Homo sapiens: one gene and its partner. The protein of the gene in region 1 interacts with the protein of each later gene in a biochemical or structural test. Each region holds a gene or a part of one and is shown on either strand. Other genes may lie near its edges.

Region 1 (9,511 bases):
GGGTAGGTGATGCATAGCCTTCCGTGGGCAGCGTTTCAGCAACTCAACCCGGCATTCGTGTCTTACTTTCGTCGTCACTTGTCACTCTAAAGCAGCCAGTGGGCAAGAAGGTTTATTTCAGAAGCCCCGAAGGGAGGCAGTGCTTTGAAAACCCCAGCAGAGTTTAAAATATTCAGGTTAGTCTCCCTCCCATTGCTTAGCTTTGGTGGGAATAAATTTTTAGGAGAGGCTTGTTACTTGGTGACTTCAGGTTCTAAGGCCTGAGCTGTGTGTGTGTGTGTGGTTTTTTTTTTTTTTTTTTTTTTTTTTTCCTAACCTGACATTTTTAGTGGACAGGATCTAGGTGGGTGCTGGTAGGCTCTCCTCTGGGTTGGGGAATGGTCCTGAAAGGGAGGAAGCAGAGAAAACAGCCCTCCACCTCCCCCGCCCCTCTTTCAGCCTTTGCAGCTGGCCACCTAGTGGTGGGACACGGTTGTGTATCTCAGGATTCGGGGGCTGGGAAAGTTTTCACTCTCGCTCCATTCTGAAATTATTTCTTGGGAAATCACTGGGTCTGATGGTACTGGAGCCTTGCAAGTTTCGCTGGTTCCTCCTGTTGCCCAGGGAATCTGCCCCCGACATTTGCTGCTGTAGATATTTGTTTGCCTGATAGATGCTTTTTTTCTTCCCTGAGCATTTGGTTGCTTCTTTTATAATGCTTTGCTTAGAGTGGGCAAAGTGATATCAATTCCACCCGCCCCCTCCAAATTGTTCTCCCCAGTATTTTTTCACCAACGTGAATTTACTGTCTGATATTGTTGTTCGTTAGGCCAACAAATTGGGTTTTTTTCCCAGAGCCTTGGAGAAGAGAGCTGCAGGCTGGAAGCTTGTGTGGAGTGACCGACTCCCATTGGGGCAGAATTACAGTGATTGAAAGTGCTCAAGAATGTGCCTTTCACTTTTTTTTTTCCTTTTAAAGGCTTTTTCAATTTTGCTGTGAGAGTTTGGTCGTCATCTCATGGTGAGAAAATAGCTCTTGATGATGCCTTGGAAATGGAGAGGGCCTGCGGAAGCAGGGAGAGACTGACACGTGAACAAGAAAAATTAATCATTTAATGGAAACCTCATTTACAATTTGCATCTCTCCCCTTCTTTCTCTCTTATGCCTAGAGGAAAGCCATGATTTTAAGTGCTTCCAGTTTCTTTTGGCTGGGCCTTTATTAGAGACTTGAGCCCATATATCCTAATTAGTGTGGACACTTTTAGAAATTAAAGCAATTTATGTTTCTCTTCTCAGTTCTCATATATTTGAATTTATTTTACTAAACTTAGTAGTTCTCCAAATAACCATATTATCTAAATATTCAGAAATGAAATCTTCAGTCAGTTTAGTGAAATATCTAATATAAAACAGTATATTAAAAAAATCTGAGTTGTTTAAAAGGTTTAAAAACACTTCTTAAAGATTCTTGTCAGTGGTTACAGATGAGAAATATAATTGGCAAATGTGAAATTTAATTTAGTTCACTTAACAAAATACACCGTAAGCAATTTAAAATTTGGCTTTCAAGTAAAAGTCACATTTGTCCCAAACAATAGAGAAACAGACCTTGAAGAAAGACAGGCACACTTTGAAAATGCTGTAAAATAATTTGTAGTTGTCCATGTTGGTGGGTAACACTGGGACCTATCTTTTCTTTTTGTTTTGCATTAAAGACAGATGGCTCCTAAATTCACTGTATCTTCAAAGTCTTACCGTAATAAGACATAATATAAAGTGGAAAGCATTAATGTAGCAATAAAATAGAAAGCCTGTAAGTGGATTAGAGTAAAATGATGGATTGTTAGTAATTAGAAAATATAGCAAGCAAGCTTCATGAACACTTGTGATAATTATTTTAAAATAAGAAAAGGTAGAGGTATGGGTTCAAGATTTTGAACCACGGAAATGTATTTTGGGGCCTGTTTATTTGTCCTGGGTCTCATGAGAAAACATCAACTCGATCACTCTTAGGAACTTTAGATTGCTCTCCTAAAAAGTGCTTAAGGAAAAAAAGAAAGAAGTTGAGACTGAATTCATGGCAATTTATGGGAATGAGCTAAGTGATTAAGCATTTCATGAAAAAGAGGCCCAGACTAACTCTATCTATTTATTTACATTTCAGAATCTCAGAAAATTGGCAGGCGACCTAATGTTGAAATAATAATGAGAAGGAGAGTTTGCTGAGTGCCTTTTGTGTGTTTCTTTTTGGTTTTATTGTTGCAGTAAAGGTTTTTGTGTTTTTCTCATCTTCTAGATCTGTTGCCTTTCTTCTGAGTGAACAGTGGTGAGAAAAAATTTTGCAAGGCCCCGCTTTTCCTTTCTTCACAGGCCAGCAGTAGCCATATCTGATCAAAAAAGATACCTGAAGGAATATTGATCACATTTTCCTGAGGCCCTAGCAAGCACAGGAATTGAGAAGTTAGGACTGGAACAACTTTGTCATTTGTCACAATTGCCAAACATTAGAATACACAGGAACCGTTTTTTCAGGTAACTCTGTGACTTGGCTGGATCTTCCTGATCATCAAGATTAGCACCTCGGGGCCTGGAAGAGGTTAGGGAGGGCAGGAAGAAGGAGTGAGCCAGCATCCAGCTCTGCGTGGGGCAGGCTATGGCGTGGACAGACTTAACATTCCACAGCACGGCTGAAAGCCCTGGACCTCTTTCCCTTGCACCCCTAATTCATGGTGATAAAACCAAAACATGGTGAATTAGGTTATTAGAACGTTGGAACATCTCTGAAGCTCAAAGCCCTCTTATGGCTATGTGAAGGCATACGTGGAGGCATACGTACTCCACCCTGAAGCTTCTCCTTCAATTTTAATGTTAATCTTACCAAGCGACAGCTTTCATCCTGGTTAAGGCAGCTCGGTGTGTGTAAAAGCAGCCTGGCCTGTTAAACACAATGCCGTTAAATCAAACTGCCTTTCTTTTTTTTTTTTTAAAGTTTCCTTTTCAGTACTGACAACTTGGAGGTAGAGAAACCAAAAGCAATGTTTTCAGAAGGCCTTTTGCTTTCTTAAAGATTTCAAACGATGATTGTAGTTAATCTGGCTGCCTGTTTGAAAAACCATCAGATAAATGCCCACAAGGCTCTCATCTTTCAGTAGCTTAGCTGCTGCTTGTCAGATTCTAAACTCCAAAGTGCTTGACTCTTCCAGTGCCCAAACTAATCCTTGTTTAAATTATGTCTTCAGAAGCTATAACTCTTATAGTGGCTTGCTAAATGATACCCTTTGGATCTGGGCTGAAGACTTCCAGAATGCCCAAGTGAATTTCAGGAGCGGGCTCAATGTTTAACCAAATTCACCTTTACCAAGGGCTATTCAATCCATATCTGGGATGTTTTAAATAAAACTATCCAGGACTGTGGGCAATATTCAAAGTTAATATTTGTTGCCAATATGTTTGGAGTGCAAGATAAAGCATTATAATGTCTAGACATTTTTGAAATAAAAAAGTCTTCTGGTTACCAAAAGGCATTATTGTCATAGGTCATGCAACTCAGAGGTGAAACTTGAGAAAACAGAAAGTGACTACCAACAGGTGACACATTGAGAAGATAATTAGGAATTTCCTCAATCATACAGCCCTCAGCACCCATTTCTCACATCAAAATAGAATGGTGGAGCCGAGTGCGGTGGCACAGCCTGTGGTCCCAGCTACTCTGGAGGCTGAGGAAGATCATTTGAGCCCAGGAGTACTGGTCTGGAGCGAACTATGCCTATTGGGTATCTGCAGTAAGCTCGGCATCAATATGGTGACCTTTCGGGAGTGGGGACCACCAAGTTGCCCAAGGAGGGGTGAACTGGCTTGGTGGGAAACAGAACAGGTAAAAACTCCATGCTGATCAGCAGTGGGACTGCATCTGTGCATAGCCACTGCCCTCCAGCCTGGGCAACACACAAGACCCTGTCTCTAAAAATAAATAAATAAATGAATGGAATAGAAGAGAATATTGAAGACAAGGGGATGAAGGCATGATTTTAAATGACTAAAATGGTCTGGGCATGGTGGCTCATGTCTGTAATCCCAGCACTTTGGGAGGCCGAGGCAGGCGGATCACCTGAGGTCAGGAGATTGAGATCAGCCTGGCCAACATGGTGAAATCCTGTCTCTACTAAAAATACAAAAATCAGCGGGGTGTGGTGGTGCCCGCATGTAATCCCAGCTACTCGGAAAGCTGAGGCAGGAGAATCACTTGAACCTGGGAGGTGGAGATTGCAGTGAGCCAGTATTGCACCACCGTACTCCGGACTGGGTGACAGAGTAAGACTCTGTTTCAAAAAAGAAAAATAAAAAATTAAAATGTATTATGGCCTTAAATAATAGGGTTGATTTCCACTTTAAAACATATCCTGTTATATTTCAGTGAAAATTTTTATTTAAAAATATTCTAAATATTGAAAAGATGTATTTTGGGGGGGCAGAGATAATGTCATTCCTTTTATTACCATCCAAAAACTGGAAGAAGCATTTCATTTTGTGAAAACTGTGCTGCTTTTAAAAGAGAAAGTCCTTACTTCCTGACTGGACCCTTCCCCCACCCCTGCTTCTCATTTTGAGGAAACCATTCTTGAATAGGCTTCTGAAAATCTTACAAGAGTAAAATTTATTTGTTCAGCATTTGGTTGTTGAAGGACCCAGTGCGGAGGTGACATTCGGGTGTCAGCCTCAGATAATACAATGTGAAATGACTGAAAAGATGCAATTGGGCACTGCCGTTCTCTTTTTACATGTTTTTTTGTTTGTTTTTTGTTTTGTTTTGAGACAGAGTCTGCTCTGTCGCGCAGGCTAGACTGCAGTGGCGCAGTCTGGGCTCACTGCAACCTCTGCCTCCCAGGTTCAAGCGATTCTCCTGCCTCAGCCTCCTGAGTAGCTGGGATTACAGGCGCCCACCATCAAGCCTGGCTAATTTTTGTATTTTTAGTAGAGGCGGGGTTTCGCCATGTTGGCCAGGCTGGTCTCAAACTCCTGGCCTCAGGTGATCTGCCTGCCTTGGCCTCTCAAAGTGCTGGGATTACAGGCATGAGCCACTGCACTCAGTCTCTTTTGATGTTTTTTAACTGATCAACTAGGTGTGAACAGAACTGGATTTTTTTCCCCGAAGAGCTGAGGCTGACTGGGGTGTGACCTCCTTAGCTGTGTAGACTGCATTGACTCTACTGTGCCTAGAATTTGGACAATGGCCTGAGGGACCAGTATGTGATTTAAGCATAATTAAAAGGTTATACTTGAGGGATAGACCTGAATCTGGAAGACAACTGCTAATTTTCTGGGGCACTGAGGGGTTTTTGTTTTGTTTTGTTTTTTGAGACAGGGTCTTGCTGTCACCCAGTCTGTAGTGCAGTGGTGCCATCTCAGCTCACTGCAACTTCGACCTCCTGGGCTCAAGTGATCCTCCCACCTCAGCCTCCTGAGTAGCTGGGACTATAGGCTCGTGCCAACATGCCTGGCTAATTTTTGTATTTTTTGTAGAGATGGGGTTTCGCCCTGTTGCCCAGGTTGGTCTCTAAACTCCTGGGCTCAAGCAATCCATCCACCTTGGCCTCCCAAAATGTTGGGACTACAGGTGTGAGCCACCACGCCCGGCCAACACTGTTTTTATGAAGGTCTGTTCCTAGAAATGGAAACCATTAAAAACAATGGCAAGAAGACCCTTTGGTTGAGGAATGACAAGATCCAAGAGGAAAACTGGTGTGCCATGGCGCCTTCCAGGCAGAGCAGGTGTTCAGGGCAGAGGCCTGGGCGGGTAGACGGGCTGCAGTTCTGGAGTGAAGACGGTGGAGGCTGCATTCTTTTCTGGCTTTCTGTTGGGATTGGCCTGGGTATGTCCTTTGACATAGCCTGTCACAGGGAATGACCGAAAAGATTAAAGGTACCTGTTCCTCTTCAGGGGCTCTGTTCAACGTAGTAGCCACTAGCTGTATGTTGTTATTTATACTTAAATTAATTAAAGTTAGGAATTATGTTCCTGAAGCATGCAAACCACATGTCTAGTGCTCAGTAGCCATGTGTGGCTAGTGGCCATTGTATTGGGCCATGCATATAGAACATTCCCATCATTGCAGAAAGCTCATCGGGACAGAGCTTCTCTAGAGGATTCTGTGCATTTAGTGAGTGTGATAACCCCATGACTTCTGACATGAAAAATTAGGGAAAATTAAAAGAAGCAGAGGGAGGCAGGGAGTTGGGGAGAGAGACAGTGTGGAGGAGGGGGAGAAGGAGAGATGAGAGGGGGAAATGGGTAGGAGAAGGAGAAAATAGGGAAGGGGGTGCGGAGAGTGAGGAAGAGACTGAGGAAGGGGAGGGGGCTGCACCATGGAGGAGGGGTGAAGGCAGGGGTTGGGAGTTGGGACTGACTCACCTAAGAGGAAATTCAGGTCAGGGACAATCATGGATGGTGGCGGGGGTGGAGGGGGTTAAGCTACCATATCCTCCCCCACCCCCTTTTTCAATATCTTGTTGGGAAATTTGCCTAAATTGAGCAACTGACTTTCCTGATTCAAATTAAGTGCATGATATAGATACATACAGAGCCCCATGTTCCTTCTTGAAATTCTTAATGTGGGGCTATTTTAAAGCAGTCATTTTATTTAAAAAAACAATTAAGTTGCATAAGTGCGGCAGATCTACAGAAAGAATAGAAAGAAACCTCCACAGGCAGGTGATCTAAAATGGGGGTGAAGACAGGCAAAACCATTTTAAGGGTTTTCATTTTTTCTGAGCTGGGAAGACATCAGGAAGAAGGTATACTTAAAGATGCCAAAGAAACTCACTGTTCTTGTATCCACTTGAAAATGGTTTTCTCCTTAAAAACTGTTTCTTGTGAGATTTGAAACATTTTAACAATAACTCAGAGCACACTTAGAAAGAAAGTGTTTGAAACAATAAAACAGTTCATTGCTTGTTCCCTGGTGTCCGAAGCAAGGGAGTCTATCTGACGTACCAGAGTCAACTGGTGACATCCTCCTAAACTAGGCCAGTTTTGATAGGGCCTACTGTGTTTCTAAGAACTTGTAATCTGTGGAATATCAAAAATTTTTTTAAAAAGGTAATGATGAAATGAACCCCAAGGACAGCTTCTGGGGCCTGTGCAGAAAGCAAGGGTAAACAGATAAGCTGAGATAAACAGATAAGAACATGCCTCTGTCCTGAAGTGGCAGAGGCCACAGGGCCACTGGTGCCTCGGCTTCCCTGAGCCTTCTCAGCTGATCTGCTGCCCTGTCCTCTGTTTCCGGCATAGAGGTTACCCTTGGTTTAACGGATGGGGAAACTGAGATGAAAGAAAGGGAGTCAGGGCCGGGTGCAGTGGCTCACGCCTGTAATCCCAGCATTTTGGGAGGCTGAGGCAGGAGGATTGCTTGAGGCCAGGAGTTCAAGACCAGCGTGGGCAGCATAGCAAGACCCCTATCTCTACAAAAAATAAAAAATAAATAAAAATGGCCAGGCGTGGTGGCTCACGCCTGTAATCCCAGCACTTTGGGAGGCCAAGGTGTGTGGATCACTTGCGGTCAGGAGTTCAAGATCAGCCTGACCACCGTGGTGAAAACCCATCTCTACTAAAAATACAAAATTACCTGGATGTGGTGGTGGGTGCCTATAATAATCCCAGCTACTTGGGAGACTGAGGCAGGAGAATTGTTTGAACCTGGGAGTGCCACTGCACTCCAGCCTGGGTAACAGCGAAACTCCGTCTAAAAGGTAAAATAATAATTTAAAAAAAAACATAAAAATAAAAAAAGGGAGTCACTTGTTCAAGGTCACTTGAACTGTGGACTTTTGGGGAGCAATTGCAAGTGGATCTCCCCTATCCTCCAAAGTGCTTTTATGTTCCAAAATAAATCTTTCTTCCTTCCTCTCATAATATATGCCAAAACAACAAACTCTTCTCGAGATGGTAGGGTTTTTAAGTGTAAATACCCATGAGGTTGTAATTGTGGAAGAGAAAGAGTGTCTTTGTCAGATTCCCTGGGAAAAGGGGCAAATTGGGAATATAATTTCTGTCTCAGACCGTGATTTCAGCTGAGGGCCAGTTTGAGAGCAGTTGGGTAAATTAATTCCTACTAGGTTGTAAATGACTGATAGGTGAATCCTCAAAGTAGATGTTTCCATTTTAAAAGTAGAACTGTGTATCAATACAACTGAATCTGTGTTTGAGGACAAGGCAGGATGCCTACATGCCATACATAAGTGCCTGTACACACATAAGCACATGTGTACGTATGTGGTATGATCGCCTGTGGAGGCCCATTACCTGTACTCTCTCGCTGCCTGGGCCCCTCCTACCAACACATCGGACAAGCGAGGCCAGCCTCTTGCGTTATTTTTCCCCTCAGCATGGCTAGTGGCCAACGAATTGCCCCCAAGGGACTGGATGTGAAGCCCCATGGGTGGTGGTGGTGGGGACAGTCATGGGAGTTTAGGTGTGGGCCACATCATTGGCAGCAGCACCACCTCCTTTCCTTGGCAGAGGCAAGAGGTGGGCAGCGGGCATGCCAGTTCCTGCTGGCTCACCACACATAGCTCCCATCTGCCCTGCACCCTGCTTCCCTGGCCGCTTACTGCTCCTTAGGAGGTTCTCGCCCTCAGTTACCTCTGCCTGACAGTGGTACCTTATGTGCAGGCTCAGGTTTCTGCAGCTCTCTTTACTTACTACCCAAGTAGGGGGTTAGAGAGGGGGAGGCGAGGAGGGTTTTTCTTGCAGATTGCAGGGCATCCCCACCCCCTCACCAAAGAGAGGGTATGAAGTGGCCTTTTCCCCCAGAAAAGCTCTCTCCGGATGACCCCTTGCCATTTTTCAGTGGTAACCTTGAGTGTTTGCATTTAGAAACCATGTCAACCCGTTTGTGTGTGTGTGTGTGTGTGTGTGTGTGTTGCGTTAATGTTGCAACTCTGCTTTTCAGGGGGCTTTGTGAGGCAAGGGAGTGTATAAGAGCCATGCACTTCCTTGGGGGTCCACAGTCAGACTTGAGATCCTGGTGGGAAGGCAGCCTGGTGTCGCTCCCTGATGATGAGGGTACAGGAAGCCATGCTTTTGATCTGCTCCTGCAGAGAAGGTGTAGCTCTAAACTTACCCACTCCAGGAAGGGAAGGGGAGGGGGTAGGAGATAGAATTACCCAACTGCTGGATGGAGAGAACCCAGCCAATGTAATTGCTCTGCAAGTCTGATAAAAAGTCTTGTGAAACCTCATTTGAAAATGGAATTCCATCCTGGCATGGGTCTTAGCACTGCTTCTGAAATGGAAACAAGCTGGAGAAGGTCGACAAATGTCCCAGGAAGAACAGCTTTAAGTGGCTGATGCAGAAATGGGTCCTGCTTGGTCTTAATGTTTTCTGTTAATGCACTCAGGAGGGGCTTGTTGGGATATGTAGATAACATCCCAGGAGAAGGAACTCCTAGCTCTAGGAAGAATAGGGGTGGAGTAAGGACAAAGGATTGGACCATCGACTTGAATAGCAAAGGATACCTGAGCATCCAACTTTTC
Region 2 (10,236 bases), about 32 Mb from region 1:
GGACAGACACTCCCAGAGCGGCCGTTTATAGACCTCCCCGCAGGAATGTAATTCTTTTCCTAGGGTCTTAATATTATATTCCTTGCTAGGAAAAGAATTTAGCGATATCTCTCCTACTTGCATATCCGTTTATAGGCTCTCTGCAAGAAGAAAAATATGGCTCCTTTTGCCCGACCCCGCAGGCAGTTAGACCTTATGGTTGTCTTCCCTTGTTCCCTAAAATCGCTGTTATTCTGTTCATTTTCAAGGTGCACTGATATCATATTATTAAAACACACGTTTTACAATCAATTTGTACAGTTAACGCAAAATCACAGGGTCCTGAGGTGATGTACATCCTCAGCTTATGAAGATAACAGGATTAAGAGATTAAAGCAAGACAGGCATAAGAAATTATGAGTATTATTAGGGAAGTGATAAATGTCCATATTAAAATGAAATCTTCACAATTTATGTTCAGAGATTGCAGTAAAGACAGGTGTAAGAAATTATAAGAGTATTAATTTTGGGAACTGATATATGCCCATATTAAAATGAAATCTTCACAATTTATGTTCCTCTGCCGCGGCTCCAGCCTGTCCCTCCGTTCAGGGTCCCTGACTTCCCGCAACAGCTCAGCCCTAGGGAAAAATCTCTCTTAGACCAGTGGTTCTCAATGGGAGGAGAGGGTACTTTCCCCAGGTGCATTGTCACGACTGGGTGGTGGGTGCTACTCATGACTAGGTATCTCATGGGTGGGGCCCAAAGATGCTGCCAAATACCCTACAATGCATAGGACATCTCCACACCCCACCACAAGGAATTATCTAGTCCAAAATGTCAGTATGCCAGGGCTGAGAAACTCTCTCTAAACAAACTTCCATTCCTTGCAAACCTCTGACCTACTGCAGAGGGCCTGGAAGGCGTGTGCCCCAGGCACGCCTGGCCTGGTCCAGCCTGCCAGGAGTGACTGGGACTTTCCACCTCAAGCTCCTGGAAGTGGAAACTATGCCGCCCACCCTTCCTGCCCAGGAACTTTCTCCGCTGACCTGCCCAGACCCTGGGCTTCAGCACTGCTATTCTCTCTGCCCATGCTCCCCACCCTGGGCAGGCCCTCCCTTGGCACAGTACAGGCTGCTGGCCCAGAACCCTGGGAACATTCCTGACCTTTGCTTTGGCTTCCTCCAGCTCTTGGCAGCTTCTGGCTGGCCCTTGATGCCCATGCCCCCGGCCCAACTTGCTGAAGTGCCCATTTTTCCCTCTGCCCCTCCGTCTCAGGCTGGCTTCATCTTTGTGCCCTCCCTTGGGGAGTCCTGCTGGGTGCCCTCATCTCCCAGTGGCCAACCCAGAGTGGATGTGGGGCTCCTCTGGCCTGGTTTGGAGCTGCCCTTGGTCTGCTGTGGCCCCAACCTGCTGCTCCACCCAGATAGGAGGGTACGTGGACTCCTTTGGAGCTTTAAATGGAAGCTGGGCGGCCTGCGTTCTCCTCTCCTCCTCCTCCCTGAACCCACAGTGACCTTGGGCAAGGCCCTTCCCCCATCATCGAAATGCGAAGAAGCTGTGCCTCTGCGGCACACAGATCAGAGCTGGTGTGGGGGGAAGGGAGAGGGAGCCTGTGGGAGGGGGAGGGCGCATCCATTATGCAGATTGTGTGGAGTGCCTTCCCTTCCCCAGCCAGGAAACGCCCTCCCAGGGGCCCTCAAGTCTTCCTTGGGAAGGAAGGCGTGTTCTCAGCAGCCTTGTTTTCTGAGGCCCTGAAGCCAGCCATTAACTTGACCATTCCAGGGGAGAAACTCACAGGATTTTGTCCTTGAGTCAGAAAAGGGCCTTGGCAGAGAAGCCTGAGGCTCTCAGGGATCAGCCCAGAGCTAAGAACCCCTGAGCGTGGTTCTGGAAGCTTCAGCTCTGGCCAGTGGGGGTTCTTCCCTGTTCATACCAAGGGCTCTGTGCCCGGCAGGGGTCGGGGGTGGGGGTGAGGATGGGGGAGGAACAAGTGCAAAAGGTGCATCGTGGCCCAGAGAAGGCGGCCTGTGCTCTGCCCTGCTCCTGTGTGACCTCCAGTCATATGCTGGACTCCTCTGGGCCACAAGCTCCCAGCTGGGAAAATCTCAGTGCTCTTTGTGTAAGGGTCAGGAGAAGCCTGAGGCTGGTGACTGGGGCCAACCAGCCTGCTGGCAGCAGCATCCCCTACACGGCCACCCTCTTGGGGGGACAGGACAGCCTGGGTGGGCCTGGGCTCTCACTGTCACTTAGGAGCTCTGTGGCCCTGGGAGGCGTCCCCACCCCTCCAAGCTATCATAGCAATGTGATAGATGGGACACCTTGCCTGGGGCTCAGCACGGTCCCTACCGCAGACTGAGTTCCACTGGGACAGCAAATCCTGGGTCTGAGGCACCCACATTCTAGACATCCCCAAGCCAGGGCACAGAAACAGCCTCTTCCTCCCGGAGTCCTAATGCTCAGGCTGCTGGCTCCCTGGGCTGGGCCCCTCGGGGTCCCTGGCAACCTAAGAAGCAGTTAACCCCTTCGCTTCTCCACCTCAGGGAAGTCTGAGGACGTAGTGGTTCTATTCAAGCTTCTCCTTGCAAAGGGTCTTATTGGGGCCTGCATCCTGGGCCCAGCCTAGCCCTGGGGCTCTGGAAACAGATGTAAGTGGCAAAGGCAGGGCAGAATGCCTGGCCCTGGCAGCCGAGCCTCCTTGTGATGGTGTTGGTGTCACCACCCCTGCTAGCAGAACCCAGTCTGCCTCCCCTTCCCATGCTGCAGGGACAGGGTCTGGAGCACGCTTCCACCTCCCTGGTCACAGGAGCAAGGGAAGTAATCAGCCCAGGAAGCCGCGCGTTTCCTTCCTTTCTCACCAGCCCATCCGGGTTTGGTGAGAGAGCATGGACTTGCCCTGTGGAGACTGCAGCTTCTGGATGTGGGAAGGAGAGCCCTGCAGGCAGGGGGCTTCCAGGCTTGGGACACCTGGGCATTCCTGGGCCAGGTACATGCACCCTCCCACTCAGAACCCCAGAGAAGGACTGCGGGGCCCCTGCAGGGCTGCCCATCAGCAGTTCCCAAACCCTCACTCCTTGGGGCTAAGGGAGCAATGTCTCTCCCACAACCAAGGGGGTGGGGAGGAAGAGGAGCAGCTCCCTCCTCCCTCCCGTCCACCGGGTCCTCTCATCCTCCCTTTCATCAAAAGGCGGAAGGTGGCCTGAGACTAAGGCGTGGAGCTTCCTTGGTCCTGAAATCAGAGCGGAGTGGCTGGATCCAGCCCGCCCCTCCCCCGCCCCCTGCTCCCCTTGCCGCCCCACCACCGAGAATCACCTGCACCTCCCAGCCCTGAGCAGAGTTGGGGGCAGGCGGGAATGAGGTTTCTCCATGGCCAACTGCTCAGCCACTGTTCCCCACGCCACTGCCACCAGACCCTCACTAAGGGGCCTCTTGCCCCTCCCTGGTCAAATCTGTTTTCAGGAAAGCACCCAACAAACCTGCAACTCAGAAGCCAAATGAGACCTATCCCAGGCAGGTCCGCTCTGCGATGGTGGCTCTCATACACCGCACAGAAGTGTAAGTTGGCCCCCCCCTCACTCCCTAAATCCATGTAGATGCCCTTAGCCAAACAGGTCTGGTGTGTGGGGGCAGGAGGGTGGAGGTAGGAGCATCTGGGGGCTGGGGCTGGCTCCAAGTGCTGCAGAGAGTTCACTATGAGCTCTGAAGTCAAACTCAGATCCTGCTCCTTAGCTGTGTGGCCTTGGGCAAGCCCCTCAGCCTCTCTGAGCCTCAGGCTCCTCCTCTGTAAGTGGGGCTGTTGGAGGGATGAACTGAGATACACGTGGCAAGGTGCCTGGCCCTGAGACTGGGGGCCCCGTAAACAGCACCTGCTGCTCTGACTGAGGGGCAGTTGGAGATGAGGGGGGACTTACAGGCCCAACACCTCATCAGCAGGATGGGCCCTGGCTCTGTACACATAGAATGTTGGAAAGCTATGTTCTGGGTCCAGTTGCAAGACCATCCTGCCCACTTGCTGGGTCGCTGAGGCAGAGCGCCCTGGACTGTGCTCTGGAGAGCAGGGGGCCGTCTCTGCTCACTGCTGGGCAGTCAGAGTCAGGTCCCCAGGGAACTCAGATCAAAATCTCAGGGCAGCCTTGCTGGGTCTCAGCTTTCAGAATTGATTTCTTTGGAAGAACAGGAGGCATAGCCAGGCCAGCTGGCAATGGCTTCAGCCACAGTCCCCCAGTGCCCCATGCTGGGTGATTGATGGTAGGAGCTGTGCCTCCCTGCCAGCCCCCCAAGCCCCATTCCCTGCCATGGCTCCGACAGGGAACTCCCTGCAATTCTTAGGTGGATCCTGAAACACCCAGTCCAGACTACTTTTTCAGCCTCACAGATGGCCCAGAGATAGATACTATTAGCCCATTTCACAGATGGGACCCCAGTGAGGTCTAGAGAGGCTCTGCTCTAGCTGAGCTGGGACTCAGATCCTACTCCATGACCTCTGCCAAGGTCCAGGCCCTCTTACCGTCCTACGGGGTCCTTGCCGGTGTCCTCAGCCTCTGCCTTCCAGACCCCAGGTGTCCTGGAGCTCTGCAGATCAGAGAGGCTAGTACTGGAAGCCTGGGCCCATGCCCCCAGCAGCCCCCAGCCCAGGGGGCCCCCAAGGCTGAACAGCAAGCTCAGGATCATCTTGGTGGTGGGGCAGGCTCAGCTCACACTCAGCCTTGGCAAGTAGCTCCAGAAACTGCTAGTGACGTTGTCTTCAAGTTAAATCTCAGGAGGAAAAGAAAATACGAGGACAACAAAGAGAGGAAGTGGCCTGGGCCGGCCTACCCGGTGGGTCTTGTCCTGCCCCCCAACTACCCTGGCTGGCCCCACAGGGGCCGCCAACCACACAAGCCAGTTCCTGTCCCTGAGGACTTGGCTCAGGGACTCTGGGAATGTGGTAGACATGGGGTGGCCCCACCAAATGCATCCTTATGGGAACCTGCTCCCTGGGAGCCATGAAAAGAGCGTGGACTTCGAGGTGGGGCCACAGGAAGTGGTCAGGTCCATCTCAGGGGACCTGCTGCCCATCCACACTGCTGGCCAGGAAATGGGGGGCAATTCATGCCTCCTCAGCACCTTCAGCACTGGGCGGCTCAAAGAAGGGAAGGGACTATTCTGGGGTCACACAGCATGCAGCCAGAGGCCAAGGCATGAGGAAGTCCTTCATTTCCCCACCCCCACCCACCTCAGATCCTCCAACCGGTTTCATGGCAGCCCAGGGTCCAGCGGCATCCAGGATGCTGGTGGGTAGCTGCACAGCCCAGGCCGCGGGAGGTTGGCTGCTCTCACCTAACAGGCCTATGTGGCCCTGACCCCTACCTAGGAAGCTGGGGACAATGGCCAAGGCGCCTCCCCTCTCTGTGCCTGTCTGTCCAGGTGCAGCATAGACACAGCACCCCTGGGGCCAAGAGCACCCAGCCAGGGCTGCCCCCATGGGTGGGCAGGGCAGTAAATGAATGAGGGACAGGTTGGGAGGTGGCCAGCCCCCTCCAGCCCATGGAGGGCACGGGGCAGGAGAGCTGGGCTGAGCCAGCAGGAGCCCAGGGAGCCTGGTCTCTGCCTTCCTATCCTGGAGGAAGGTGAGGCTGAACCTCCTTCCCTCCCTCCCTCCCTCCCCGCCCCCACTGCACGCAGGGCTGGCTGGGCTCCAGCTGGCCTCCGCATCAATATTTCATCGGCGTCAATAGGAGGCATCGGGGACAGCCGCTGCGGCAGCACTCGAGCCAGCTCAAGCCCGCAGCTCGCAGGGAGATCCAGCTCCGTCCTGCCTGCAGCAGCACAACCCTGCACACCCACCATGGATGTCTTCAAGAAGGGCTTCTCCATCGCCAAGGAGGGCGTGGTGGGTGCGGTGGAAAAGACCAAGCAGGGGGTGACGGAAGCAGCTGAGAAGACCAAGGAGGGGGTCATGTATGTGGGTAAGTGGGGCATGGCAGGGTGGGACAGTGTGGTGGCCAAAGGGTGAGTGCCCAGTTACCTTCGCCAGACCTTACTCCCCAGCCCCAGGGAGGCATTTTGGGAGGGGGCGAGGCCCTGGCTATCAAGGTGGGGTCTCCAGACCCTGGAGCACCCACAATGCCCTGTGCACACCTATGTGTGTTTGTCTTTGGCCTCCTCGGGGCCTCTGGGTGTCAGAGACCGCAGACAGGGCTGGCTACCTGTCTGTGCACGCACACACACATTCCCAAGCATACCAGCCTCCCCTGAGCCTGGAGCCCCTGAAGCCATGAGCAGCCTGTGCTCAGGTGGCCCCCACCCTCTCCACACGGGAGCGGCTACAGCCAGGTCACGGATCCCCTCCCTCCCCAGAGAGAAGGGGCAGGCTGGGGGATGAAACCTAGGCTCAGTGTTCCCTCCCCCGCATCCTCTCCTGGCACTCTCCAGAGGAGGAAGGGGAGGTCAAGCCAATGACTCAGCTCTGGCCCATCCTGTCCTGTTGCTGCTTCTGAGGCCCGGCCACACCCGGGCAGGGGCTGGACCCTGGGTCTAGCCAGTGTCCCTACCTCAGGCCTGCTCTCTCTTGTCCCCCACATTCTGTCCTGTCCCCTTCCCATCCATCCACTTCTTCCAGACACAGCAGGAAGAGGCCCTCTGAAGGGGCCGCCGGCCCCCAGACACCATCCTTACCCCCCCACCGACCCCACAGTTTGTCCAGCTGTTCTGTTGTGTTTGTCCTGACCGCCCCCAACACCTCGAGGGAGGTCTGGGCTGACAGCTCCATTTCCTCCCCAGGAGCCAAGACCAAGGAGAATGTTGTACAGAGCGTGACCTCAGGTGAGAAGCCCCAGGGCCAGGGGACACATGGGGGATAGGACCCCTGGGGCTCCTGCATCCTAGTGCTGGGGCTCAAACCTAGAGTCCTGCCTTACCCCCAACTGGGGTCCCAAGCCCTACAGACCCCTGCAGACCATGAGGCTAAACTAGGGTGGGCGTCTCCTTACCCCCACCAGCATCAGAGGTGCCCTGGAGTCAGAGGGAGCAGGGGAGGGTCCCAGCAGGGCCAGGGCTCTGAGCTCCTGGGAAGGGGCTGCGAGCCTGACTCCAGCAGGCCTGCCTTGGGGCTGGGGCTGGGGTGGAGGCCAGCCAGTGTCCTCCCATAGTGGCCGAGAAGACCAAGGAGCAGGCCAACGCCGTGAGCGAGGCTGTGGTGAGCAGCGTCAACACTGTGGCCACCAAGACCGTGGAGGAGGCGGAGAACATCGCGGTCACCTCCGGGGTGGTGCGCAAGGTGAGCCCCGGCCCTCAGACCTGCCCAGTCCTCTCCTGGGCCCAGAAAGGCTGCTGGGCGGAGGCGGCATCACTCCACTCCACACCCCAGGAAACAACACGGGGGGCTGCGGCTGGCTTCAGTTTCAGTACCCACTGAGCGCCGGCATGGGGTGGGGTCCATGCTTGCTGTTCGACCTGCATTCGGGTCTGGAATCACCACAACCACCCCTTCGGGGGACTTGGGAGCCCATCTCATAGACAAGGAAAGTGAGGCTCAAAACCACATCTTCCGGACGGCTCTCAGCACTTAGGAGACACCCCATTTTATAAGTGAAAACAGGATCCCACACGGTGACAGGCAGCCTCCCGGGCAGTGGTCACCAGGCCGGGGGCTGAGTAGCACCAGCCCCGCCCCCAGGGCCTAGCCTCCCTCCCTGGGCTGGGCGGGGCAGCTGCCTCCTGCTGGGAGCCTCAGGGAAGTAGCGTCCCCTAGTGGTAAGAAAGCAGTGCTGCTTCTGACCCTACCCTCTGCAGCTGCCTTTGTGTGTGTGTGCACGTGTGTTGAGTGAGCATGTGGGTGCATTTGTGAGAATGTGTGGGTGTACATGCGTGTGAATGTACACATGCGTGTGCGGCCCAATAGCAGACAGCACAGGAGCAGTGGGGCGCACCCCAGGGACGGGTGTTGGCTGGGTGAGCTGTCCCAGCACCTGTGACACAGCAAGCTCTGCTTTACGCATTGTACGCTTATTAGTTCATTTAATAGACACAAAATCCATGAGACGGTGTGGAAACTAAGGCCCAGAGAGATTAATGTGCCCAAGGTCCCATGGCTAGTTCATGTGAGCTTGGAATTCCCCTGAGCAGCCTGTACTCTGAGAGACCCTGTGGCAGTGTAAGTGGTGGCCTGGGCTAGGATTCCTACCTGGGGGTGGGGCGGGGGAGCAGTGTCCAGCTCTCCTACCTGCTCCAGGCCTCCTAGGTGGTGGAGTCTGAGGCTCTGAGCACTGAGAATCCCTGCGTTAGGAGTGGGTGGGTGGAAGGGTGGGGGCTGCCCTACTCCTCTTGGCTCTGGGGCGATGCCCAGGTGTCTGCTTCCAGGGCCAGCACAGGGTCTCCATGTCCTTGGAGCTGGCAGCCGCTCCCTCTCCTAGTTCCCCTTTCTCGTCGTATGACCTTGAGAAGCAAAGGAACCTCTCTGGGCCTCCGTGTTCTCATCTGCAAGATGGGGGTGAGAGTGTCGGCCTCCCTGGGCTGTGTGATGAGGCAGGGCCATGACCTCCATGAAGCAATTCTCCTGGTCTATGTGAGCACCCAGCAGAGGAAGGTGACCATCATCATCATCATCATCATGTGTCCCAGGCAGAACACATAGAGCCCCAGGGGGCTCCTCCCTCCTCACCCCCAGCAAAAGAGGCCCTGGGGTGAGGGTGCCCGGGCATTCCTTGTGAATCCCGGAGCAGGGCTAGTGAGCCCTTGGAGCCACCTCGAGGGAGACTCATTTCCTGGTGACACCCCAAAACCAGTCACGACTCATCTCCCAGTGAACTGTGAAAGGCCTCAGCAGGGACTATCTGACCACTCATACCCCTGGCCTCATCATCAGCCTTAGGGCAGCAGGACTCAGCAGGTGGCCACCTGCCCTGCCCCTGGATAGCCTGGCCGACTCCCGCCAGCACAGCACTGCCCTTTTATGCCCCACTCCGCCAAGGGGCAGGATGGCCCTGGGGCAACACAGAGGTGACAGTATCCCCGCCTCCCCCCCGTCCCCCGCCAGAGGCAGGTGCTGAGGCCAGAGTGCAGGGCAATCACCAGTGTGGTCCTACACACCCAGCTGTCATGATATCTCACGCAAGTGTCTGGCCGGCATGGAGTGCAGGAGATAGAAGATGGGAAGTGAGAGAGGACTGTGTAACCTCTGCTGGCCCTGACCAGCCTGAGCCCAGAGCCTGTCCAGGAGGCAAAGAGAGGGAGCCATGCTCCTGTGGACTGAAGTGGGCCTGAAGCAAGCCTGATCTGATGCCAACACACCCCACCACTTTGAGCTCGAAGGCCCTGAGCTGCATGCCAAGCCTCCCTGGCCTCAGAGTCCCTATGTGAACCCCAATCAGTCTTCCTTGTAGGGCTACTGAGGGTGGGGTCAGACCTGGGGCTTCAGGGGCCTCTGCCCACTCTAACCCCCACTCCACCCTACCCCACCCAGGTTCCTCATCAGTGAAGCCCAACTAGGGGCTTCCCAGAGACTGGGGACCAGCTTGAGGGGTGAAGCTGGGCTCCAGGGTACTTGGTGCCCCTGGAAGGCCTCGGCATCATCAGAGCCCCGGGTATTGTCTGAATTGCACGCCCCCAATACCTCCAGCCCCTCCAAGTACAACAAGGCCACGAGGGGCCTCTGCTCCTCCTTGAGGCCAGGGTAGACAAGGCCCTGGTTGCAGGGCAGCTAGGGGTCTCTGCATTCTCCACATGGTCTCATGCCCCCTTTTGTCCCCTACAGGAGGACTTGAGGCCATCTGCCCCCCAACAGGAGGGTGAGGCATCCAAAGAGAAAGAGGAAGTGGCAGAGGAGGTAGGAGCTGGGCTCCTGGGGTGCACCATGGGGGGTTCCTTGGTAGGGACCCCATCCCCCACAGACGCACTGCTTCCCTCCTGGGCTCCCAGGGCCCAGAGGGGCCTCCTGACCTTCCACAGCCCCTACAGGGACTGTGTACAGGGCTAACCCTGAACCTGAGTGGGAGGTCCCCCCACGGATGACCCCTCAGGCATGGGGCACAGAAGACAACTTTTCTCAGCCCACTCAGGGTGGCCCATTAAGGCTGGGGCCTGGAGCTGGGTGTGCAGGTCATTCTCTCTCCCAGGCCCAGAGTGGGGGAGACTAGAGGGCTACAGGCCAGCGTGGATGACCTGAAGAGCGCTCCTCTGCCTTGGACACCATCCCCTCCTAGCACAAGGAGTGCCCGCCTTGAGTGACATGCGGCTGCCCACGCTCCTGCCCTCGTCTCCCTGGCCACCCTTGGCCTG

The links.
Region 2: of the proteins of GRK5 (region 1) and SNCG, one has a biochemical effect on the other in vitro, tested with the Homo sapiens proteins (one study listed by BioGRID).

The regions. Positions count from the first base shown.
Region 1 is NC_000010.11:119,209,205-119,218,715, forward strand, and holds part of GRK5 (G protein-coupled receptor kinase 5), read left to right. Parts: intron 1-2,276; exon of another isoform or gene 2,277-3,500; intron 3,501-9,511. UniProt on the Homo sapiens protein: Serine/threonine kinase that phosphorylates preferentially the activated forms of a variety of G-protein-coupled receptors (GPCRs).
Region 2 is NC_000010.11:86,952,892-86,963,127, forward strand, and holds the start of SNCG (gamma-synuclein), read left to right. Parts: upstream 1-5,806; coding exon 5,807-5,927; intron 5,928-6,741; coding exon 6,742-6,783; intron 6,784-7,057; coding exon of another isoform or gene 7,058-7,109; coding exon 7,110-7,237; intron 7,238-9,712; coding exon 9,713-9,784; intron 9,785-10,073; coding exon 10,074-10,094; 3' UTR 10,095-10,236. Other genes in the region: MMRN2 (multimerin-2 precursor), read right to left, coding at 4,487-4,650. UniProt on the Homo sapiens protein: Plays a role in neurofilament network integrity. May be involved in modulating axonal architecture during development and in the adult. In vitro, increases the susceptibility of neurofilament-H to calcium-dependent proteases.